Linked DNA regions of Homo sapiens. The protein of the gene in region 1 purifies or fractionates together with the protein of each later gene. This does not show direct contact. Each region holds a gene or a part of one and is shown in the gene's direction. Other genes may lie near its edges.

What was found.
Region 2: the proteins of SLC35D2 (region 1) and TM9SF3 purify together in Homo sapiens (affinity purification with mass spectrometry; one large-scale study listed by BioGRID and IntAct). This does not show direct contact.
Region 3: the proteins of SLC35D2 (region 1) and NPEPPS purify together in Homo sapiens (affinity purification with mass spectrometry; one large-scale study listed by BioGRID and IntAct). This does not show direct contact.
Region 4: the proteins of SLC35D2 (region 1) and TUBA8 purify together in Homo sapiens (affinity purification with mass spectrometry; one large-scale study listed by BioGRID and IntAct). This does not show direct contact.
Region 5: the proteins of SLC35D2 (region 1) and ALG1 purify together in Homo sapiens (affinity purification with mass spectrometry; one large-scale study listed by BioGRID and IntAct). This does not show direct contact.
Region 6: the proteins of SLC35D2 (region 1) and TRABD purify together in Homo sapiens (affinity purification with mass spectrometry; one large-scale study listed by BioGRID and IntAct). This does not show direct contact.
Region 7: the proteins of SLC35D2 (region 1) and ROR1 purify together in Homo sapiens (affinity purification with mass spectrometry; one large-scale study listed by BioGRID and IntAct). This does not show direct contact.

The regions. Positions count from the first base shown.
Region 1 is NC_000009.12:96,363,212-96,366,711, reverse strand, and holds part of SLC35D2 (nucleotide sugar transporter SLC35D2), read left to right. Parts: intron 1-2,161; coding exon 2,162-2,248; intron 2,249-3,500. UniProt on the Homo sapiens protein: Nucleotide sugar antiporter transporting UDP-N-acetylglucosamine (UDP-GlcNAc) and UDP-glucose (UDP-Glc) from the cytosol into the lumen of the Golgi in exchange of UMP.
Region 2 is NC_000010.11:96,577,013-96,580,512, reverse strand, and holds part of TM9SF3 (transmembrane 9 superfamily member 3 precursor), read left to right. Parts: intron 1-3,500.
Region 3 is NC_000017.11:47,586,608-47,590,107, forward strand, and holds part of NPEPPS (puromycin-sensitive aminopeptidase), read left to right. Parts: intron 1-622; coding exon 623-737; intron 738-3,500. UniProt on the Homo sapiens protein: Aminopeptidase with broad substrate specificity for several peptides. Involved in proteolytic events essential for cell growth and viability. May act as regulator of neuropeptide activity.
Region 4 is NC_000022.11:18,117,309-18,120,808, forward strand, and holds part of TUBA8 (tubulin alpha-8 chain), read left to right. Parts: intron 1-3,500.
Region 5 is NC_000016.10:5,070,515-5,074,642, forward strand, and holds the start of ALG1 (chitobiosyldiphosphodolichol beta-mannosyltransferase), read left to right. Parts: upstream 1-1,328; 5' UTR 1,329-1,335; coding exon 1,336-1,543; intron 1,544-1,733; exon of another isoform or gene 1,734-1,789; intron 1,790-2,436; coding exon 2,437-2,514; intron 2,515-2,638; coding exon 2,639-2,742; intron 2,743-4,128. UniProt on the Homo sapiens protein: Mannosyltransferase that operates in the biosynthetic pathway of dolichol-linked oligosaccharides, the glycan precursors employed in protein asparagine (N)-glycosylation.
Region 6 is NC_000022.11:50,192,413-50,195,912, forward strand, and holds part of TRABD (traB domain-containing protein), read left to right. Parts: intron 1-614; 5' UTR 615-648; coding exon 649-681; intron 682-1,163; coding exon 1,164-1,242; intron 1,243-1,927; coding exon 1,928-2,094; intron 2,095-2,487; coding exon 2,488-2,628; intron 2,629-3,500.
Region 7 is NC_000001.11:64,179,008-64,181,998, forward strand, and holds the end of ROR1 (inactive tyrosine-protein kinase transmembrane receptor ROR1 isoform 1 precursor), read left to right. Parts: 3' UTR 1-2,491; downstream 2,492-2,991. UniProt on the Homo sapiens protein: Has very low kinase activity in vitro and is unlikely to function as a tyrosine kinase in vivo. Receptor for ligand WNT5A which activate downstream NFkB signaling pathway and may result in the inhibition of WNT3A-mediated signaling.

The DNA.
Region 1 (3,500 bases):
TTGAAGTCAGTAGTTTGAGACCAGCCTGGACAACATGGTGAAACTCAGTCTCTACTAAAAATACAAAAATTAGTCAGAAATTGCTTGAACATTCACTGGGAGGCAGAGGTTGCAGTGAGCCGAGATTGCACCACTGCTCTCTAGCCTGGGTGACAAGCAAGACTCCGTCTCAAAAAAAAAAAAAAAAAAAAAAATCAGTGATAAGGTGTCCTTTGTAGTCTCTAAGTGAAATAAATTCATTACTCTTTAACCCAGTGGCTTATACTCAAAGGTAAAGCCTTTCTGATTTGCAATTTGTTGAGGGAAGAGGCCAGTTAGATCTAATTTTAAAAGTCTGAATTACATTTAAGTGTTAGTATATTTATTTTATTTTATTTTTATTTTCTTCCTTCCTTCCTTTTTTTTTTTTTTTTCCAGTGTCTGGCTCTCTTGCCCATTCTGGAGTACAGTGGTGTGATCTTGGTTCACTGTACCCTTCACCTCCTGGGCTCAAGTGATCCTCCTGCCTCAGCCTTTCAAGTAGCTGGGACTACAGGCATGCACCACCACACTGACTAATTTTTGTATTTTTTGTAGAGATAGGGTTTCGCCATGATGCCCAGGCTGGTCTTGAACTTCTGGGCTCAAGCGATCTGCCCACCTTGGCCTCCAAAGTGTTGGGATTATGGGCGTGAGCCACTGCGCCTGGCCAATGTTATTGTATTTCTTTAAGAATTATAATGTGAGGCGTAAGTACAAAGTACAGTTATAATTCAGGATGGGCTTAATTACATAAATATATTATAAGTTTTAAGTTTGTAAACTCAGGAGCAAGGTATAGGATTATAATCGTGTTGAAGGAGTCTTAAATTTTCACATCCTAAAATGGAGAGAATTGAGTAAGTTCTAAAACTTGCATGAAAGATGACATTAAATTTTTATTTCATAATAATGATATGGAGTATTTCCAGTATACCTAGGGTACTCCAGATTAAGAGGATTTGAAGGAGACATTTTTGCTATACCAGCTAGATTGAAAAGTAAATCTTTAAAAGTAAAGTTTAAAGAACTTTTTTTCCTCTTTGTTGGTCTTCTGTTTTATGGAAATAATGGACTTTTTAAAAAATGTGCTTAGGTGTGGAGTTTCTTTTAAAAGAATGTTCCCGTGCCTTTATGGGGGAGGATGCCATATGCTTAGTATATGGGAAATATGGTCCAGGATCATTGTGTCATCTCACTGGCTGTGATCACTTTTGCACATTTGTCACTGTCAGGGAGACCATTCCCTTTCTCCCTCTGCCACAGTTCATTCCTAGAGCCCCGTGAGATAATGTGTGTGTGTGTCTATTGGATATTACACTTTTTTTTTTTTTTGAGATAGAGTCTTGCTCTGTCTCCCAAGCTGGAGTGCAGTGGCATGATCATAGTTCACTGGGCTCACTGCAGCCTTGACTTTCCGGGCTCAGGTGGTCCTCCTACCTCGGTATCCCGAATAGCTGGGACCACAGATCACCAAGACTGGCTAATTTTTTGTATTTTTTTGTAGAGATGGGTTTTCACCATGTTGCTTAGGCTGGTCTGGAGCTCCTAGGCTCAAGTGATCTTCCCACCTCAGCTTCCCAAAATGCTGGGATTACAGGCATGAGCCACGGCACCCAGCTGATATTACCTTTTTTTTTTTTTTTTTTTTTTGAGACAGTGGTGTCTCACTCTGGAGGGCAGTGGTGTGATCTTGGCTCACTGCAACCTTGGCCTCTCAGGTTCAAGCGATTCTCCTGCCTCAGCCTCCTGAGTAGCTGGGATTCTGCGTCTGCCACCATGCCCAGCTAATTTTTGTTTTTTAGTAAAGACAGGATTTCACCATGTTGGCCTGGCTGGTCTTGAGCTCCTGACCTCAAGTAATCCACCCATCTTGGCCTCCCAAAGTGCTGTGATTATAGCTGTGAGCCACCGTGCCCTGCCCGACGTTACGTTTTTTGCCTGGAGTTCTGATGGAATCTGTACTGTGGCAAGGAAAACAATGTTAATATTCTAAGAAATAGTTATTTTTTTCTGGAACCTAGAAAATGAATTTTTTGCTATATTTCTTTTTGATGAATGTGTTTTCTTTTGATGATGTCATTGTACCTCAAGCAATCTTTGCAGATATTTTGCTGAAGTTTCTCTCTCCCCTTTTCTTCAGATGGCAGCCACCATAATGATACTATATGTGTCCAAGCTAAACAAAATCATTCACTTCCCTGATTTTGATAAGAAAATTCCTGTAAAGGTAAGTAATGAAAAGTATGTATGACTGTGATAGAAGATGTGAAAATACACATTGATTTTAGAGTACAGGTCAATTTCTATACACACTGTACTTCCTGCCTGCACTGGATAGAAACTTCTTTTTTTGTTTGAGATGGACTGTCGCTCTGTCGCCCAGGCTGGAGTGCAATGGTGTGATCTTGGCTCACTGCAATCTCCGCCTCCTGGGTTCAAGTGATTCTCGTGCCTCAGCCTCCCTAGTAGCTGGGATTACAGGTGCCTGCCACCATTCCCAGCTAATTTTTTTTGTTTTGTTTTGTTTTTGTATTTTTAGTAGAGATGGGGTTTCACCATGTTGGTGAGGCTGGTCTCGAACTCCTGACCTCAAGTGATCCACCCACCTTAGCCTCCCAAAGTGCTCGGATTACAGGTGTGAGCCACTGTGCCTGGCCAAGAAACTTTAATAAAGACTGTATATCATTTAGTTGTCCATTTATGTAATGCAGTAAGTAGTAGTAAAAGTATGTGCTTAACAACTGACATCAAATAAATGAATACTGTGTGTCTTGGGAAGTGAGAGAACTCTAAATTAGGCATTGGCAAACTTTTTTGGTAAAGGGTCAGACCATCTCTTGTAATTATTCACCTCTGCCACTGTACCATGAAAGTAGCCCTTGATGACATTTAAATGGGTTGATGTCCATGTGTTCCAATAAAACTTTATTTACATAAACAAGAGCTGGGCTGGATTTGAGCTCTAGTTTACTGATTTCTGTTTTCAGTTTTCATTTTTATCCTGGACTGACAAAAGCTGTGAGTGGAATGAAGAATGCAATTTGATATACATAGAAATACGCAGTTTTTTCCGTCCTGGAACTAGAAACATAAAATCTGCCATTCCTTCGTGGACTGTGGAATGGAACTAACGTTTGTTGAACAGTTGCTGGGTTCCAGACATTAGGGCAGGCATTTAATTCTTAGACCAGTCCCATACAACAGGTGGTATTTATGGATTATGACAGCATTTAGGTTTAAATCAGACTGTCAGTTCCCTGAGGGTGAGGATCTCATGTGGCTGGTTTGCTGCTGTTTCTCTAGTGCTTGGAAAAATGCCAGCATCTAGCACTGGATTATTTATCAGACAGACCAAAGAAGCACATGCTTACAGCATCAGTAATCAGGGGAGCCCAGTGTGGTGGCTCACGCCTATAATCCCAGTGACTCGGGGAGATCAAGGCAGGAGGATCGTCTGAGGCCAGGAGTTGGAGGTCAGT
Region 2 (3,500 bases), on another chromosome or scaffold:
GGGTGGATCACGAGGTCAGGAGATCGAGACCGTCCTGGCTAACATGGTGAAACCCCGTCTCTACTAAAAAATACAAAAAATTAGCCGGGTGTGGTGGTGGGCGCCTGTAGTCCTAGTTACTCAGGAGGCTGAGGCGGGAGAATGGCGTGAACCTGGGAGGCGGAGCTTTCAGTGAGCCGAGATTGCACCACTGCACTGCAGCCTGGGCGACAGAGCAAGACTCCGTCTCACACACACACACACACACAAAGATGAAGCAGAAAAGGGGAGGAAGACAATATCATAAACCGTTTTGGCCAGCGTGGATGACGTAAGTGTAGCAGTGAGATTCTTCTGAGAGCTGGAAAATAAGTAGGTGAAGAATGCCGGTAGCCTGAATTGGCCTCCTCTCACTTGGCCGTTTCCCAGGGAAGCCTCAGATGAAAGGGATTATTATCGTGCTTAGGGATCCCCTGATACACTGCTGTGCTTCTGTGACTCCACCCCACCTTCTTCTGGGCCTAGCACTCTCTTCCCACAGACTGTGGAGCTCAGGGGCTTTATCAAAGCTTTAGGGAAAGGAAAGATTTTTGTTTGTTTTGTTTTCTCCTTCAGAAGTTGTGTGAAGTCTTTTGGTATTTTTTAATTTCAAAATATTTTAAAACATTTTCTTTTGAGAGAGAACTCTTGATCTTGTCTTGGAAGCACTTATTCTCAGGGACAATCAAGGTCTGCAATGAAAAGTAAACATTTTAAGTTAATTGTATTAAACCACAGTCTGCATAGTAAGGAGCAAAACAAAAGAAAAAAGCATTATTTTTGCCTTGCTATTCACCCTAAACTCTCAGTATGTGTATTTCTAATTACTGTTTCAGTCCTCTTCCCAGAAAGAATCTTAGACTACAAAATGATATAAATTTTATTACAGTACGGGCATCACATCACAACTCTACCACTCTGTTAAGGATTCCTGAATGTTTAAAATGAGTAACTTCGGAATATGTGGTTTAACATCGACTGGGACCCTTAAATTATTTTAGTCCTTATGTTTTAATTTGTATAAAATAAATGGATGCCCTATTTTTAAAGGTATTTATTTTCAAAAATGTTGTCTATTTTTAAAGGAAAAGTATTGGAATTTATAGAAAAAGTATTTTTGTGCTTATTTTCACAAGTTACATTTATAACATTTCTGCAGACTCAGCAGGGTTAATGGCAAGGTGCTCTTTAATAGGTCGTCTCATTCAACATTCTGCTCTTAAATAGATGAATTATGTTACCTCCCCTTATTTTTCTGAAAAGGTACTCTTACAGTCAGGGTACATAGCAGTCATTTCACATACTTCAAACTTCTTTTACCAAGTTGCCAATGAACTTTACATTTCAGCATTTCTTCAGTGTTTTCCCATCATATTTATTAAATATCTATTTGCCTTGGTGAATAGGTTCTTCTTGTGAGACTGAGTCTCGCCCTGTTACCCAGACTGGAGTGCAGTGGCGCAATCTCAGGCTCACTGCAACCTCCACCTCCCAGGTTCAAGTGATTCTCTTGCCTCAGCCTCCCAAGTAGCTGGGATTACAAGGTGTGTGCCACGACACCCTGCTAATATTTGTATTTTAAGTAGAGACAGGGTTTCACCATGTTGGCCAGGCTGATTTCAAACTCCTAACCTTAAGTGATCCGCCTGCTTTGGCGTCCCAAGGTCTTGGGATTACAGGTGTGAGTCACCGTACCCGGCCATGAACAAGTTTTAATTCTAATACCAACTCTCATCAGTTGGTAATGATTGGTTTAGAGCACTGTTTTGAGAACTCTGAGGCAATATCTATGTTCAGCAGAAAGGAGTAACTTGGTTGATTAGTATTGTGTGGCCCATGAGCATTGGATGGAAGAGTGGGGGCATACATATATTTGTCAGTCTCCCCAAATAAAAAGAATAGTAATGAATGGGGATATACTGCTACATTAACATTTAGACCTTTGATTCATTACTTCCTATGTGAAGATTATCTACAGTTGTTTTTCTGAACTCCCTTGAAACAGCTTATGATTTTCCAAATTGTTATTCGTCCTGACCTTCTCTGCCAAAGTGAATTTAATCATTCCTTTATTGTTGCTACAATAGCCCTTTATTACCTTAATTATAATACTTATTTTTTCTTTGTTAATCATTTACTTGTCTGATTCCACTGTGGATTATGAACTTCTTAAGGAAACGACAGTATTTTACTTACTTTTATATTCTTAATACCTAACGCGATACTTGGTACCTGTCACATGTGTTCAAAAGGTGAGATCATTTGTTATTTCCTTAATGACCTGGCTGTTGTCTTATATGAACAGTGAGGCATTTATGTTTGAAAATGAAATGACTGGGTCTAAGTCTTAGGGTGATAATCGTGTGAATCAAAAGAAAAAGGCAGATGTTTTTGGTAAGAACATACAAGTTAATGTTTTTGGGTTCCCTAGAGTGCAGAGAGATTTGGGGTTTGAGTCTCCATGGCTGAGAGAATGGTAGTACCATTAGAAAAATGAAGCTGGGGGAAGTGGATTTGGGTAGATGAGTTTGGTTTTGGAGATGTTAGGTTTTGATTGAAAATATTTATTTATTAACTAGTTTTAGATGGAGGACTGGAGATAAGGATTTCATAGTGGGCCAGTTGGATCACTTCTTCTATTATGTGCCCCATAGCAACCTACCTTATTATTATTGCTTGTTTAATGCCCATCCTTCCCCCAGTAGGACAGGGAACACATCTTGTTCAAAGCTGTATCCTCAGTTATAAACACAGTTGTTTCACATGCTAAGCACTTAGTAAATAATTGTTCAGTGAATTAATGTCTGCACTATTAGTTGATTTAAATGCATCCAATGTTGTCTTTAATTTATACTGCTACTTAGAATTATTAGTTTTAAAATTACCATGGTAATCAGTTTCCATAGAATCATTGGAACTTTAAACTTGTCGAGATCTTAGAAATCTTTGACAGGCCTCCCACTTGTACCTTGGAACTACTCAAAGTCATTACTGACCACACTTCAGATTTAGCCATGTATAATATTCACTGATATGTAGTTCCATAATTACTTATTCAAAGAAATATGCATATAGTGCATGTCTTTCAGGCTGCTAACAAGATAGAATGTTGGCTTGAATGGACTTGTGGAGGTTCTATAGCAGTCTTCTTCCTTGTCCTCTGTAGTACTTTGACCAGTGGCTGTGTGAAAGTCTCGCAAGGAGATGAAATTTTATTTATGCTTGCTGGCAACATTAGGTTTTTTTTTTTTTTTAATTGATTAACATGAGGTTCTGGATAAACTTGATTTTGTTTCCTCCTTCCTTGTCCATGTTAGCATGGTGAATCATGCTGGTTGCAGGTTTGCCACTATTTGATAGTGTAAATGTAAATAATAGACACACTCTTATGAGCTATTGGGCTTAGTTCAAACACTGTCTTCTATAAAACAAGTTTGGAAAAGGTGTATCTGCCTGAGACTACAATCAGAGGATATAATTTT
Region 3 (3,500 bases), on another chromosome or scaffold:
TCTGGCGGTAGTAGCATTTTTAGATATATTCTTGGCTAAGTTTCTCATTGCAGTAGTTTCATAGCTATTTATCCAGCTTGGAGAACCTTCCCTAATTTCATATCTTCTAGCCAAGTTTTTACATGTCTGTCACCACAACATAAACATGTGAGTTGAATAACTTTTAAAAGCAGAGTCTGTCTGTAAACAAGTTTTTGCCTTCTACTTTCAATTGCCTTTTTAGATGAGCTAAGTGTTGGACAGCCGGCTCAGTGCTGTTTTTGGGACTATGGAATGCATCTTCCTCCACCACTCCCCTCATTTAATGGAAGGACTTTCTTCTCTCTCCATCTAGCACAGTAATCGCTAATCCCTTAGACAATGTTTTCCCAAAATTTCAGGCAGCTATTCTATCAACAAACTGATAATTAAACTTGTGTCACATCTTTGATATTCTGTTGTATTAATTCTGTTGGGGTAGTCTTTAATCTTCGTGAAACTTTTTCTTTCCATATTAGGAAATATTTTCCTAATATCTCTAAAGCCTAACTTGTCCATCTGACTTACTGTCTGAATCTTCCCAACTTATGCATGCCCACTTTTATTGTTTAAATTTGTTTCTTTTTTTTTTTTTTAAACACAGGGAGACTGCATTGCTTATTGATCCAAAAAATTCCTGTTCTTCATCCCGCCAGTGGGTTGCTCTGGTTGTGGGACATGAACTCGCCCATCAATGGTTTGGAAATCTTGTTACTATGGTATTTAATATTTTTAAGTGCTCAAATATATTTATCTTCATCCTACTCCACATTATTTTGGCTACATAGTATTTCAAGTTTGGCTGCAACACTGTGCCAAAAAATAATTGAGTGATAGAAAAGTATTATTTTAAAAGGTCCACTTTGAAAAGGCTTATCAGAATCTCTGCATTGAACAAGGGCATATGGACAGTCTTTATTCAACAGACACTTCCTAAACTGTTCTAAAATTTGTCTGCAAGTGGGAAAAGTCAAGATACTAATTTGGGTGAGAGAAAAACATTCCTCTTAGGTGTAGATGAATGAATCATGCAGTGAGATTCCAGGCTAACTGTAGTTTCTTGAATCTTATTTGTTAATCTGATTCACAGCTGAAAAGTAACCTGATGAATAACAAACTGATCTTTAATTAGAGAGAAATGTTTTTAGGAGTCAGTTTTTTCATTGCCTAAAATGTTAAGTTGAAATTTAATGAAATAAAAGTAAACAAACTGCAGAGTGACTGCAGAATAAAGCTGTATTAAAATTCCAGCTGTTCTGTTGAAATCCTTATAATGTTTGCAGTAATGATCTCTGTCCTTCAGTCCTGATTTTTCACTCTTACTCTAAGTAAATACTATTTATGAATGCCAACTGTGTTAGAGCTTGGGAGCACAGGATTTAATAAGTGAACTAGATGTACCTCTGCAATTAAATAACTGGATATTCTGGAGCCAGCTAGATTCCCTGACATTTTAGGCTGCCAAAGAGCAGAACCTGATTTGAATGTAGATTGAGTCCATACGTCATATAAATAAGAATGTAAGACATTTATCAACTATTACGTGTCTCAGAGAGTTTCTACAGAAAGTCAACCCTTGAAAATAAATCTTTTCCTTTTATTTTGGATGTTTAAAATTTTACAGGTGAAAAAAATTCTTTGAAATATAATTTCAGGCCGGGCACGGTGGCTCACGCCGGTAATCCCAGCACTTTGGGAGGCTGAGGCAGGTGGATCACTTGAGGTCACGTGTTTGAGACCACCCTGACCAATGTTGCGAAACCCCATCTCCACTAAAAAAAATAGAAAATTAGCTGGGCGTGGTGGTGTGCGCCTGTAATCCTAGCTACTCTGGAGGTTGAGGCAGAAGAATCACTTGAACCTGGGAGGCAGAGGTTGCAGTGAGCCGAGATCACGCCACTGCACTCCAGCCTGGGCAACAAGAGCGAAACTCCATCTCAAAAAAAAAAAAAGAAATATAATTTCATGTGGAATTATGTGTTGGTGCCTGTATTCAAATATGTGAAGAAATGGCCTTTTCTTCTAATGCAGCAAGTTTGCTACTTTGTACCAAATAATTTTTTTGCTTGGTTTTGAGATAACTTTATGATTTTATTTTGAAACAAGCAATAAATTTTAGTAGGGGAAATGTGTACATTCTTATTAAACAACTTTTTACTGGTTTTATGTAACTATTCTAGTTATTAGAACTGAAATTCCAAGGGCTTAGGGATAGGTTGGAAAATAAGTTTCATTTTATGCTAGTTTATTTTAGGAAGCTACTAGGCAAATAGCCACTTATCACTTAATATCAAAATAATTTTTTTTTTAAGACAGAGTCTCACTCTGTCACTTAAACTGGAGTGCAATGGCACAATCATGGTTCATTACAGTCTTTACCTCTGGGCTCAAGCAATCCTCCTGTCTCTGCCTCCTGAGTAGCTGCAATTACAGGTGTGTGGCACCATGCCCAGCTAATTTTTGCACTTTTTGTAGAGACAAGGTTTCACTGTATTGCCTTTTGTAGAGACAGGGTTTCACTTTGTTGCCTAAACTGGTCTCAAACTCCTGGGCTCAAGCAATCCTCCCACCTCAGCCTCCCAAAGTGCTGGGATTACAGGCATGAGCTACCACACCTGGCCTTTTCTGGGGGGACTGGTTGGGGATGGAGAATGGGATCTCACTTTGTCACCCAAGCCGGAGTGCAGTGGCACAATCATGGGTCAGTGCAGCTTCATCTTCCTGGGCTTATGTAATCCTCTTGCCTCAGCCTCCCAAGTAGCTGGGACCACAGGTGTGTGTCACCATGACCAGCTAATTTTTTTTTACTTTTTAATTTTTTTAGAGATGGAGTCTCACTATGTTGCCCAGGCTTATCTCAAACTCCTGGGCTCAAGTGATCTTCCTGCCTTGACCTCCCAGAGTATTGGCATTACAGGAGCAAGCCATTGTGCCTGGCCTGCTTTCTTTTACTAATAGGCTTAATCAACTTTAATAAAATTTAGATTAAGATCTTTCAAATTTTTTTAAAATTGATTTTATCTGTCACTCATATTCTTTGTCCATTCCATTTACTATGCATTCTTATTTAACAGGTGATAATTTTATATTCCATAAGTGCTTAAACACCATTCATTACTGAACTGCATTTTTGTTTAATTTCACATAATTTTTATATAAGCAGTACTCTTTCTCAGTTTCTCTTGAACATTCAACTCATTAGTGAGTGGTTTTCCCCTGTCATTTCCATTTTTCTTTATTTGGCTCTGATAGTTTTCTGTTTTTGTTTTTCAGAGATAATCCTTTACTATACTAAATTCTACATGATTATATTTTCCACCTCTATTTGCCTATATTTATCTGTTGTCTTTTCCTTTTCCATATATGGGCTTTTTTTTTCCCTCTTCTTCCTTTTCTACCTTTGGTATTTAAAAAGTTACTTAGGACTGAATGCACTGGCTTACGCGTGTAATCCCAGCACTTTGGCAGGCTGAGGCGGGAGG
Region 4 (3,500 bases), on another chromosome or scaffold:
ATTTTTATGAATACGCTGAACAAAGCAAATCAGTTTATTTGTCCCCCAAATATTTTGATTTGTTCAAACAAGAATTCAGTCAGAGTCCCCATGATGCGTGTGGTGGTGCTTGGTGGTGCCTTAGTTCCTTTGACATGGGACAGCCCCTCCCAGCTCTTCATTTCTCATGAGTTGAAAAGGCTGGGCCAGGCCCGATGGCTCACGCCTGTAATCCCAGCACTTTGGGAGGCTGAGGCAGGTGGATCACGAGGTCAGGAGATCGAGACCATCCTGGCTAACATGGTGAAACCCTGTCTGTACTAAAAGAATACAAAAAATTAGCCGGGTGTGGTGGCGAGCGCCCGTAGTCCCAGCTACCTGGGAGGCTGAGGCAGGAGAATGGTGTGAACCCGGCAGGCGGAGCTTGCAGTGAGCCGAGATCGCACCACTGCACTCCAGTCTGGGCGTCAGAGTGAGACTCCGTCTCAAAAAAAAAAAAAAAAAAAGAAAGTAAATAAAAAAAATTAAGAAAAAAAAAGGCTGGACCAGCTGCCCTGTAGGATGTCTCACCTTCTGGATTGATTTTGTTTTCTCTGATATCACTGAACTTAATTAACCCTCTGATCCCTGTGTTTCCTGTGAAGTGGAAACTGAATCTACAGGGCTCAGTGATGAGGGCTGAGTATTTTTGAGAAGAAGTCCTCACTGGTGGTGTGTGTGTCACATTGCGTCCCATCAGGAGGTCCTCGATGTCGGGTTGGCCCACAGTTAGCGATGCTGAGATTGATCGCGGCCTTAGGCTGGCGACCCTGGTAGTTACGTCCCCCCTTGTGACTATAACAGTGGTTCTTTGGCTCTCGGCGAAGATCCAGTTCCCCATCAGTCTTTCACCTAATGGTGTTGGCGTTCTTGTCCAAATCAATCACGTAATTAGAAGATGGAATAGGGCAATATTTGATAATCTATTATTCGGTCCACATTGCTTAGCAGACATTCTTCAATTAAAGAAAAAAGAGCCTTCTCTAACTAACGGGGCTGTCTGGATAGGGACAAATGAGTTTTTCTCTGGGGGTTTTCTTTGAGGACTTGTGGGTTTTCATCTTGCATCCTGCTTCACTCAAATGCTGCCATCAGTACTTGTGAGGCTCAGGTTGTCTCATCTTAGGCAGCAGGAGCCTCTTCAGGTGCTTGGGCAGCCCCTTGGTTAGCCTCCGTGCCTCCAGGCGCTATGCGACATTCCAGGCTCATCTAGCACACTCCCCACCCTGGACCTGGACGCCTCCGTCTCTCCAAGGAGCCCAGTTCCTGTTAGCAGGGATCTTCCTTCTCTCTTGATTGGTGTAGCTACTTTTCACTTTTGAGAGCACCTATGAATCTGTCAGTCATTTCTGAGTCTATTTTATGCCTCCAATTATTCTTATGAGCTAGTTCAATAGGAAAAATAGCTCTTTCTAAGGGGTGTGTGTGTTTGCACGACGGGGGCGGGGGAGAGAGAAAGAGACAGACATTTTGTAAAAGACTGGCATATGTATTAGTGTGAGATTAATGAGGGCATTAAAAGAGGCTAAAGACGTTGTCACCATGCTAGTGGTTTTCAGGTCCCCCAAATCCTTGACTCTTCCTCCCATGATCTTCGATTTTCCCAAAATATCCCTGCGTCCTCCCTGGAAAGCCCCAGAATGTTCCAGAAGTGAGAGCAGGCTGGGGGCCGGGCAGCACTGTAGGCAGGACTAGAGGGTGGTCGGGATGCGGTGGTGGTGAGGGGGCGACAGACCCAGAAGGCTGAGGGTTAGGACCACAGAGGACACTGTCACTTAGAAGGAAAATACATAGGATCAGGCCCCCCTCGGGCCTCTCCAGTGTCCCCTCAGCTTCCACACCTCCCTGGGAAGTCACAGCCACATGCTGAATGTGACGCCGTGGTCTGGGTGGATAACTCGCTGGTTGTGGGTGGTTTCTGGATGCAGATGCTGCTTTCCTTAGGCCTGAATTGAGCCCTCAGATGGAGGCAGAGAATAGACCCCACAATAAAGGAGAGAGGAGCAGGGACCTGAGAGCTCCCTCTACGTGTGCTACTTCCCGGTGCAGAAAAATGCTACCAGGTAGTACCGTAATGAAAATGATAATGGCAAGACAGCATCAACAACTGTGGCTAACTTACACTTTTCAGATGAGGAGAGGCTCAGTAACTCAGCCCAGGCCACACAGCACAGCAAGTAAATTGAGAAGGCAACATGGGAACCTGGGGCCGTGGGCAGCTCTGTGGGTGAATCCCCTCCCTAGCCACCAGGCTCACGGAGATCCAGCGGGTTGCGACCCCCGTCGGGCTGCCCCACGCTCACCCCTGTGCTCATCCTCCCTCAAGGCAAGGACCAGGTGTCGCTCAGCTGTAGCACAGAGACAGGACTAGAGTGGGGGCACAGTTGTAAAATTGAACTAGGGGGCAATGGTCCTGATGCTCTGACCCCGCAAGATGCTACTCAGGGCAGCTGCCCTGCTCTCCATGCCCAGAATTTCTTCCACGTCTCCAGGAGCCCCACACTTTGACGTGGACTCTACTGGCTTCTGTGCCCAGCCGTGCCCTCTGGAGGCTCTGCCCCTGGCTTGGGTTACCCGGAGCTGGAAAATGCCAGGGCAGGTCATGGGTAAAAATAGAAACCCACAGACCTGGCACATGCTTCCTGCTGGGCTCAGGCGGCTGCCCCAGGCACAGTGTCGCCTTGTGTGGGCCACTGCTTCCCCAGGGCAGGGTGTGGGTGGGAGGATGAGTCTATCACGCCTACGTGTGCACGTGCACACACACACACACACACTGTCTCTCTCCCCACCCCCCTTTTTCTTTAATAATTTCAACTTTTATTTTAGATTCAGGGAGTACATATGCAGATTTCTTACATGGGTATATATTGTGATGCCAAGGTTTGGGGTACGATTAATCCTGTCACCCAGGTAATGAGCATAGTACCCAATAGTTAGTTTTCCAATCTTTGCCCGCTTCTTCCCTCCCCGCTCCAGTAGTGCCCAGTGTCTACTCTTGCCATTTTTCTGTCCATGAGTACCCATGTTTAGCTCCCACTTATAAGAACATGTGGTATTTGGTTTTCTATTCCTGCATTAATTTGCTTAGGATAATGACCTCCAGCTGCATCCATGTTGCTGCAAAGGATATGGGTTCATTCTTTTTTGGGGGCTGCGTAGTATTCCATGGTGTATATGAATGACATTTTCTGTATCCAGTCTACCATTGCTGGGCACCTGGTTGATTCCGTGTCTTTGCTGTTGTGAATAGTGCTGTGATGAACGTGTGAGTGCAGGTGTCTTTTTGGTAGGATGATTTTCTTTTGGATATATACCCAGTAACAGGATTGCTGAGTGAAATGGTAGTTCTGAGTTCTTTGAGAAATCTCCAAACTGCTTTCCACAGTGGCTGAACCAATTTACATTCCCATCAGTGCACTCCCCATCTTAAGCTGTTAGTACGAATACCAATCAGGCAATTGTGGCTTCACATCAGCTTTACT
Region 5 (4,128 bases), on another chromosome or scaffold:
GAATCCATAGAAAGGGAGTGATGGGGCAATTGTGAAAAGCAGATGCAAAGTGTGCCAAGCCCTGAGCTGAGCCCAGGGACACTGGGGAGCCACATCCATGTGGGCTACCCTGTCCCGTGGGTGCTGCCTGTGGTCCTCATCAGGGGAGGAGTCTTGTTTGTTTGTTGAATACGGTCTGGGTGGTGGCTCTCCAGGTTCTGCGGCAGCTCCCAAGTGGAGGCAATGGGGTAGCATCACCAGTGAGCTCTTGGTGTTTCTCTGCAAGGGACCGCTTTCAAAGAAAAAAGGTCATGATACGGTTTGGCTGTGTCCCCACCCAAATCTCATCTTGAATTCCCATGTGTTGTGTGGAAGGGACCCAGTGGGAGGTAACTGAATCATGGGGTCAGGTGTTTCCCGTGCCGTTCTCGTGATAGTGAATAAGCCTCACGAGACCTGATTGTTTTATAAAAAGGAGTTTTCCTGCAGAAGCTCTCTTTTTGCCTGCTGCCATCTATGTAAGAGGTGACTTGCTCCTCCTTGCCTTCTGCCATGATGGTGAGGCCTTCCCAGCCATGTGGACCTGTAAGTCCATGAAACCTCTTTCTTATGTAAAGTGCTCAGTCTCGGGTATGTCTTTATCAGCAGCATGAAAACGGACTAATACAGGCCATCGCAGAGACACACATTAAACTCTCACTATGGCTACTTTGGGAGGTGAAATTGGAGGGTCACTGTGGAAATTTCCTTTCTAGCCATTGATACTTAAGCAAAATCATGATGGTGTTTACTTCCTTGTTTGTCCTTCCCCCTCTCTACCTTTTAAATGTTTTATTAAGTGTGATGTACACCCTGGAAAATGGGCAGGTAATCTGCTGCTTGAGGTACCGCCCCAAATGCAGCACACCCACATTACCAGCACCAGATCCAGAAGCAGAACCCACCAGCCCCTAACTTCTAACAGCGAGGACTGGTTTTTATTTACATAGACGGAACTCTACAATTCGTACTCGTCAGCATCTGGCTCCTTTATCAATGTTAGGATGAAATTTATCCAAATTCTTGTGTCACTATATTTTGAAATTATCTTTGAATCCTGAAGAGAGTTCTTAGATCCCAATACAGTAACAGCTTTACTTTAGTCGGGGAAATACACTGGTGTGTAGGGAATCTGGTGTATGTGCGTGTGTCCTACTACTACTAATTCTTGGCCCCGAGGGGCTCCTGGGGGTTCCCCGGGCCCCTGTTAGGGAACCGCGTCCACTTCTCGCCCTCTCGGCCCACTTCGGAGGCTCGGTCTGCGGCTGCGCACAGCGCGAGGAAGCGCGGTCACGTGACTGCTGCGGGCCAGCCAAGATGGCGGCCTCATGCTTGGTCCTGCTGGCGCTGTGTCTGCTGCTGCCGCTGCTGCTGCTGGGAGGATGGAAGCGCTGGCGCCGGGGGCGGGCGGCCCGGCATGTAGTAGCGGTGGTGCTGGGCGACGTGGGCCGCAGCCCCCGTATGCAGTACCACGCGCTGTCGTTGGCCATGCACGGCTTCTCGGTGACCCTCCTGGGGTTCTGCAGTGAGTGGCCAAGGGTCTGGGAGGGACGATGCTCTCTCAGCCGTTGATCCTCGGTTCTAACCGCCCCGGGGAGTCGAGGCGGAAGTGCTCCTTTAGTCGCCGCCTTTGGGCAGCTCTCCGAGATTAGACGAGCGGTTCTGCCCCAGCCTTTCCTGGGTGGGTCTCTAGGTATAGCCGGCGTTAATCTTGCCACGTGTCAGAAGTGTGTTAAGTGAATCCATTGCGTGGTCTCACGTAATTCTCCTAGTAAGTGGAACCCAGGTGCGTGGAACTCCAGGGCTAGTGCTGGTAGCTACGTCCCTGTGCAGCTACCCTTGTCAGGCTATGTCTGAGCTGACAGGATATTTCATTCCTCATCCCTCAACGCAGAGCTCTGCAGACAGATGTTTTCATTTGTTCTTCATGTCCAGCTTTTCCCCACAGTGTGCAGGGCAGCGGTGTCTGCTCCCTCATTATTCTCCACGTTGGTATCTTGAGAGGGTAGCTCAACCCCATCTCAGGAAGAAGTGGGAACAGCACTAGTTGCCTTTAATCCCTGTTTAGAATCTGCTATCCTAGGGTGATGGGGTAGAGTGGGACTTCCTAGGGATGGCTCTGTGGTGGGAAAATTCCACTATCCAGACAATCTAGATTAGTTTAATTGAGCACCTACTGTTTGCCAGGCATCATGTTAAGTGAAGGTAGGTAAGATTCAGGCCCTATCTCTGTGTGCCTCCTAGAGCAATCTGAACAAGAATTGGCCGCATTCTCTGTTCTGGCTAGTGAGGAGCAGAGAGAGGTTTTGAAATATCTTACTTTCCAAAACACTGTCCGTGATTCAGCCTGAGTTGGGAGATTATCTGACTTTAGATTGCTGCTTCTGGTACATTAAAGGGATCATTCTCATTTTTCAGACTCCAAACCCCATGATGAGCTCTTGCAGAACAACAGAATTCAGATTGTGGGGTTGACAGAACTTCAGAGTCTTGCAGGTAGGATGCCGTCAACTCCAGAATCCTCTGAATCCATGGGCTGGGGGCAGGGGGTGTTCGTTTGAAAAGCCGTGCAGATTGCCAGACGCTCCTTTGGTAGTCACAGGTGTTTTCTGACTTGCAGTTGGGCCCCGAGTTTTCCAGTACGGAGTCAAAGTTGTACTTCAGGCTATGTACTTGCTGTGGAAGTTGATGTGGAGGGAGCCAGGTGCCTATATCTTTCTCCAGGTGTGTATCAGCCTCTGCCTCCCTCTGTGAGAGCCATGTTAGCAGTTTACTTTCCAGCACAAATTGGTACTATATTGCATATTCATATGTGTGTGTGTTGTGTGTATGGGCGTTTAAAGACATGAGTAGGAGCCTATGGTATGTGTCTATTTATGGCACCTATCCATGCTCTCTGTGTCATTACAGATAGTCTTACATTGTACTGACTGTGTATCAAGTGTTTTCCATGTATTAACTCATTTAGTCCTCACAGTTACCCTAAGAAATATTGCATGTAGGTAATACAAGAACCTGTTTCTTAAGGTTGTTCTCATTTAGATGAGAAAACCTAGACTGAGAAAGGCTCTGTAAGTAGCCCATCGCCATACAGCTAGGAAGTGGTGGAATCAGGATTTGAACGTAGGTCGTCAGTGTGGTTCTATAGTATACACACGCACGCATACGCGCGCACACACAAACACACATATATTTTTTTGAGACAGAGTTTCGCTCTTGCCGCCCAGGCTGGAGTGCAGTGGCGTGATCTCGGCTCACTGCAACCTCTGCCTGCCGGGTTCAAGTGATTCTCCTGCCTCAGCCTCCTGAGTAGCTGGGATTACAGGTGCCCGCCACCACGCCCAGCTAATTTTTGTATTTTTAGTAGAAATGGGGTTACGCCATGTTGGCCAGGCTGTTCTCGAACTCCTGACCTCAGGTAATCCGCCCCCCTCGGCGTCCCAAAGTGCTGGGATTACAGGCGTGCGCCACCGCGCCTGGCCTATCGTTATACTTTTAATCCCTTCCCTTGATCACTTTTTCTTTAAAAAATTTTTCTTTCTTTTCTAGCTGAAGGAAGAATACTTTTTTTTTTAAATCAATTTTTAATATATAGAAGCACCTTCCTCTTTTATTTATTTATTTTTATTTTTCCTGAGATGGAGTCTCTGTTGCTCAGGCTGGAGTGCAGTGGTGCGATCTTGGCTCACTGCACCTTCTACCTCCCGTGTTCAAGTGATTTTCCTGCCTCAGCCTCCTGAGTAGCTGGGATTACAGGCATGTGCCACCATGCCTGGCTAATTTTTGTAATTTTTTTTAGTAGAGATGGGGTTTCGCTATGCTGGCCAGGATGGTCTTGAACTCCTGACCTCAGGTGATCCACCTGCCTCGGCCTCCCAGATTGCTGGGATTACAGGCATGAACCATCGTGACCCACACCTTCCTCTTTTAATAGGCAGCCTTGAATTCCAATATGTGATGTACTATACTGCATGTATTTAGTCTCATGTTAATGGATACTCAGATTCTTCCTGATTTTGTTTTTACTTTTACAAATAGTGTGGCTCCAAGCACAGCGAGCATATGCCTTTTGTATAAGTCCAGTTTCTTTCTTAGGGTAACTTCCCAGCA
Region 6 (3,500 bases), on another chromosome or scaffold:
CCCCCTCGTGTGGCTGCCCCAGCCTGTCCGGGTTTCTACCGTGGTTCCTTCCACACCATGTTTGTCTCTTAAAGTGGGAGAGAAGGTCTTAGGTCCAAACACGTTGATTTGTGTGCTTTGTGGATTCCTCCGTCTGTACTGACTCTGTGCCGGTGTTGTTGCCCAGGCTGTAGTTACTGAAAGGGGAAGTGGCTTTTGTACAAAGGCCCTGGGGTCCTTGCCATGTGTCAGCAGCTGCGTTGCTGTGTCCTGAGATCATGTGTGGACCCCAGGGCTGCCTTCCTATGTGTGCCCGCCGTGCCGCAGTGAGGGTTGGGCAGCTCTGGCCCTGTTCTGAGTGAGGCCTGTGCACCAGCAACCCGCCCTGGGCCCGTCTGCGTTTGGTTTATGCTGGGGTGTCTGGGGACCTGCTGGCCTTTCCCCACCCGGGCCTGACCTGAACCGACCCTGGACCTCAGCAGCCTTTGATGGGCAGGAGGCATTTGGGGATATGGGGGAAGGAGCCCCCAGGCCCACCCAACAGATGGTTCTAGACTGACAGGGCACTACGCAGTGAGTCCTGAGCCAGGTCTGGGGCTCCAGGTGGAAACCCCGCCTCTCATGCCTCTCCTCAGGCTCCCCACAGGTGCAGGAAGCCGCCGCCCAGCCATGGACGGGGAGGAGCAGCAGCCACCGCACGAGGTGAGGTGGAGGCTGGGCTGGCTGCACAGAGACAGGGGCGGGGGGCTTCCCCGCTTTGTGGGCTCTCGGGGTCGGTCCCTGGCTGTTGTTCTGCAAAGGTGATCTTCACAGGGTTCTCCAGGGTCAGGCAGGAGGCACCTCCGAGGGAGAGGGGCGCTGGGCTGAGGTGGCCTGGTGGCCCTGTCTGCCCAGCTTGATGGCAGCCGTGCCAGTGATGGCCAAGCAGGAGGGGTACTGACAGTGTGGGGCCTAGGCTCTACGGAGGCCCTGCTTTTCAGGGTGTGTGGTACACAGAGCGGCCACGGGTCCCTTTCCCGGGTACGTGGTCCGTGGAGCGGTCACGGGCCCTCGTTTTTCAGGGTGTGTGGTCCACACAGCGGCCACGGGTCCCTTTCCAGGGTACGTGGTCCGTGGAGTTGCCACGGAGCCCTGGCTTTCTGGGGTGCATGGACCCTGACTTGAACTCTCCTTTCCACCTGCAGGCCAACGTGGAACCTGTTGTGCCGTCAGAGGCTTCAGAGCCGGTGCCCAGGGTGCTTTCTGGAGACCCCCAGAACCTGTGTACGTGTCCCTCAGGGTCCTGGCACGTTCCCCGGTGTTGGGCTGTTGAGTCAGGGAGGAGGGGGAGGCAGCCAACCACTGCCAGGGGCTTGGAGCTTGTGGTGAGCAGGGGCCCTGGCCGAGACCTGAGGTAGGTGCTGCTAGGCCTGGTGCCACCCAACAGCAGCTGCTCCTGGGCCCTGCCTGGCAGTGGAGCCTCTTGGAGGGGCTGCAAGCAGCACAGGCAGGCCCCTGGGCATGGGGGGCTCGTGAGCACAAGCAGTGTGAGCGGCACGGGAGTCCCTCCTTGCTGTGGCCTCAGCCTGTCCCTCCTGAGTGGGGTGGGGGGGCCCATTTCGCCTCAGAGCCCCTCCCCTAGCTGAGCCCCCTGCGGCACCTGCCCCCACTGTCCCCCACACCGAACCTCATCCACAGCAACCCCCAAGGTCGCCCTCATGGGGTGTATGGGGCACAGGACTCCTGAGGCCCTGGCTTCTCGAAGCCGTGCAGCTCACAGAGGTGGTAGCCGGTGTTCCCATCACTGGGCAGGCAAAGCCTGTGGAGTGTGACGCTCGTCAGGAGTCTTGTGCTCTGCACCTGTTCAGTTCTCAGAACCCAGGAGGGTTCTAGAGCCCAGGCTGCCAGCGGGCCCGGCGGCGTCCTTGGGGTGGGCCCGGCACCACAACGGCCTGTGCTGCTGTTGCAGCCGACGTGGACGCCTTCAACCTGCTCCTGGAGATGAAGCTGAAGCGGCGGCGTCAGCGGCCCAACCTGCCGCGCACTGTGACCCAGTTGGTGGCTGAGGACGGGAGCAGGGTGTACGTGGTGGGGACAGCCCACTTCAGCGACGACAGCAAGAGGGACGTTGTGAAGGTGAGCGCCGCCACCCGCCACATCCCGGACACGGGTTGGTGTAAGCTCCTGTGTCCTGCACTCAGGGACCTCCCGGCAGGGCCCGTGTGCCCGTGTGTGCGCACCGCAGGCCTCCTGCTTCAACACTGTGGTCCCTGGGAGTGGCAAGGTGGGCTTCCTGCCTGGGAGCCGTGACGGCCTTGTGCGTTTTCCCACTTAACAAGTGAACAAGCCTCACAGCTTCCTCTCTCGTCGCTTAGAGAATTGAGCTGTCACTGCAGCAGCGGGGTTAGCTAGCCCTGGGGTGACGCCAAGGCTGGCTGCTCCTGGGATGGGGCCCCTGGTGCTGGCGTCAGCTGTGCTGAGGGGCAGGGAGCGGCTGTGTTCTCGAGGTGTGACCTGTGGCTGTTGCAGACCATCCGGGAGGTGCAGCCTGACGTGGTGGTCGTGGAGCTCTGCCAATATCGTGTGTCCATGCTGAAGATGGACGAGAGCACGCTGCTGCGGGAGGCCCAGGAGCTCAGCCTGGAGAAGCTGCAGCAGGCCGTGAGGCAGGTGCGCAGCCGCGGGCAAGGGTCAGGGTCAGGGTCGGGGTCAAAGCCACCTGTTTGCCTGTTGCCCAGGTTCCTCTCACAGCCCATGCCCCCAGTCAGTGTGGCTGTGCCTGGCCTGCCCTGGGGATTGCCGGGTTAGGGACCTCCCCTGGGCCAGGAGAAATGAAAGAGGCTCCATTACCCGGTTTCAGGCAAGGGAGGAGGAAATGGGTGGCTCTCCAAGCTGAGGCAGGGGCTGGTCACCCGAGGACTGGGTTGCTGAGCAGTTGCTGGGGATGGGTCAGGTCTCAGTGCAAGGTTGGCCCCCCCGGTACCACACCCAGGCCCAAAGTGGGTGGGGCTCAGGGCTCCTCCTGTCCCCACTTCTCCAGCCTTGCAGTGACCGGAGAGGCAGGACTTTCTCATTGCTCTTTGTGTTTTCGGTTTTTGTTTTTTTTTTTTGAGACAGAGTCTCGCTCTGTTGCCCAGGCTGGAGTGCAGTGGTGCGATCTTGGCTCACTGCAACCTTCGCCTCCTGGGTTCTAGTGATGCTCCCGCCTCAGCCTCCTGAGTAGCTGGGATTACAGGTGCCTGCCACCACACCTGGCTAATTTTTTGTATTTTTAGTAGAGACGGGGTTTCACCATGTTGCCCAGGTTCATCTCAAACTCCTGAGCTCAGGCAATCCACCCACCTCAGCCTCCCAAAGTGCTGGGAATACAGGCATGAGCCACCGCGCCCGGCCAGGCTTTGTGTTTTCAAAGGGGGCCCAGCACGCCTGACCCCAGCCCTGGTCAGTTTGCCTTCCCCCTGTTCAAAGGAAACAATTATAATGAGATCTTATAGAAATGTCCCTAAACGTTTGGCGCCTGCCTTTCATTTTTTAATTTCTCC
Region 7 (2,991 bases), on another chromosome or scaffold:
GACAGACACTCGGCCAGAAAAAAAAAAAAAAAAAAAAAACAAGCAAACAAAAACATTGTGGGATGTGCACTCCATTGGAGTGCATGACATGGCATTGGGATTGGAACATGTGGTTTCGAGCACTGAAAGCTGCAAACCAGTGAAGAGGAAAAGAACCTTGTGATTAAATATAAAACCAAAAGTCAAATGGTGCTTTGTGTTTTAGCCTTCAGTCACCATGACTGGTCTCTCCCCCAGATGTATATATACCATAGCATTTGTCTACCTGCTGTCTTTTCTTCAGGACAGATGTTCAGGAATTATATTGATTGAATTTAGACTCTGTGCATGTTCTTATGGAAATGATGTTCAGAATCCATGAAGAAACTTCAGGCCAAATTTGAAACCCTGGAGGGAAATGAGCCATAAGGGAAGTATAACAAGCCCTGAAGCCTTTTATGTCGTTGTGCTTCTTTGGGAAGGTGTAGAGTGTGCCTTTTTGTGAATCCTCCTCTGATCATGAGGGTCTTTCCCACAGTTTCTCACAGTGTGTTTACACTGCCCTTGGAATAACACAGCGCATCAGACCATAAGAAGGCTAGATGTGGATGCTAGAATTGATTGTTGGTTGATAGTTCTCTTTGCTGGATTAGGAATGAGGCGCCAAAGGAAGCACAGCCAGGAAAATGGCCCCACAGCCTAGATCAGCATCTGTGGGAAAGGAAAAAGGGTTCCCATGGGGACAGCCCCCATAGGAGTTTTCTGGAACCAGTAACACTGAAAAATAAGTGTGTGGCTACAGATGAGCACGCCCACCCCTTGCAACTCCCTGTTTACAAGTTGTCCGAGGCATTGGAGTGCTTATGGTCAATGGGCTCTAGGGAAGTAGGAAACTCCATCATGATACAAATGTCTAGTAATTTTAAAGTTTCTTTCCCTTTTTTTCTGTGCTGGAAATGTTCACAGATTTGATTCCCGCCCCAAGAATTACAACAATGTATTCATACAGTCAGTTGGAATCCAAAGGCAATTAATTCTATTTTGCAAAATATGATGGTCTTCCTAAAAAACAAGTACTGAGTTCTCATTTCAAAAGTTACCAAGAACTGAATTCTTTAAACTAGCAAACCGAAGTAACATGACCATTTTTGCCTTAGTGGGAGGTTTCAAATGTGCAGCTCATGGCATTTACCTGCCGACCATCTTTTGCCAAGTTTAGAATTCTTATGCGTTTCAAGTTCTATATAGAAAGTAATTTTACTTTTGATTTTTCTCTTGTTAAAAAAAAACTCCTTTATTCTAAGAACAATGTCTCAAAGTCTCATTTTTACTTTAAAGGTATAAGAGACTTCTAAAGAGACTTACGGGATATAAAAGTAATTCCTGGAAATGATATTTGATGAGGAGAATGTAAGAGAATGAAAAACACATTGATGTTTTCATTTTTAAAAAATACAACTAGCATGAGAAATCAAGAAAATATGTTTACCAAAATGCATTGCAATTTTCCCAAACCTGAGTCTTCAAATAACAAACATGAACTTATAGGTACTGTGAACTAGAAGAATTGGTTATATCCAGATTTCTGGGAGATAAATTAAAACATATTTTTGTGGCATAAATAAGCTGATTCAGAAGTTACATTTCTTAACTTTAGGTAGAGGAGAATATTTGTATCCTTTTGTTGCTATGCAACTGTTTAATGATGAAGCTTCAAACCACAATTTTGTATATCATATGACAATCAATTGTTTTCCAAGAATATTTATTATTTTAAGTACACAATTTCAGTGAATCTTGAGTTTTTCTAGGAGTCCCTTAAAGGGAAATTAGCATTCCATGAGCCAGTAAAATACCTACTCTGGTAAAACATTATTATGGTTAAAAAGTAAATTCAAGTTAGTTTTTTATAAAGAACTATAACATTTATTTTAAACATTTTATAATAACTGAAAACATTAAAGTGAGCAAATGAAATTTCAAAACCACTTGTAATAATGTATTTTATAATCGCACTGTGATACTATATAACACAGTCTCTTTTGTATTAAAATAGTATTTTTTTCACAAGCTGAAAAATATCTTTTCCTTTGTTGACAATGTTTTGTAAGATGACTTTATTTTCAGATCTTTTTCTCCTTTTTTGCACAAAACTATGCTTATGGTTTGTGTCACAGAAGTGAAAATATATCTTTGCATTTTTATATCTGGTCTGTTTTTCTTGTTTCCTTTGTTTTTAACTTGATATAGATTTTCTTCAAATATATAATGGCAATTTTCAGATATCTCACCTTACCATATCTTTCCTTATTTTCACTGCATGCATTTAATCACTGTATTACTTAATGTTTGATTTGTTATTATGGGCATTTCAAATAGGCAAGCATTGAATTGTAATGACAAAAAGGCTATTTTATATTAAGGATATATGCATTTGTATTTCACACACCAGAGATGATATTAAACACTGATTATTTTATGCTGCTGTTTATTAAAAATGTTTACTATAAAATATTATTTCCTGAATATTGCTGTCATAGAGGTATTTGGGGATTTTAACATTTACATTTTATAGAAAGAGGAATCACAATTCCTATTTGCTGTTATTTCATTAAATTTTTTTTTTTCAGTAGGCTTTTAAAACAGACTTGGGCATTATTTTGCTAGCAACCATAGGTGGAGAGGGGAATCCTAATGATTTCATAACTGAATACTATCCACCTATATATGGCAAGCTTTGAATTTTTAAAATCAAAATAATATATTGAATAGTTACAACCAATGGAATATAAAAAATATTTGATTTTAAGAATATAGTTGCATCATTTTCTGCCTTAATATTTCCATATAATCTTAGATATCAAAAGTCACCTCTTTGGACTCTAAAGAAGAAGAGGCTGTGTACATCTTATCATGCCCAACTTAGCTTCCAAACATACTGATAAAATAAATGGGGCCATTTAATTGTCACAACTTATCTTTATGACCTTATTTGCCCAAAAGAAAGAGTTC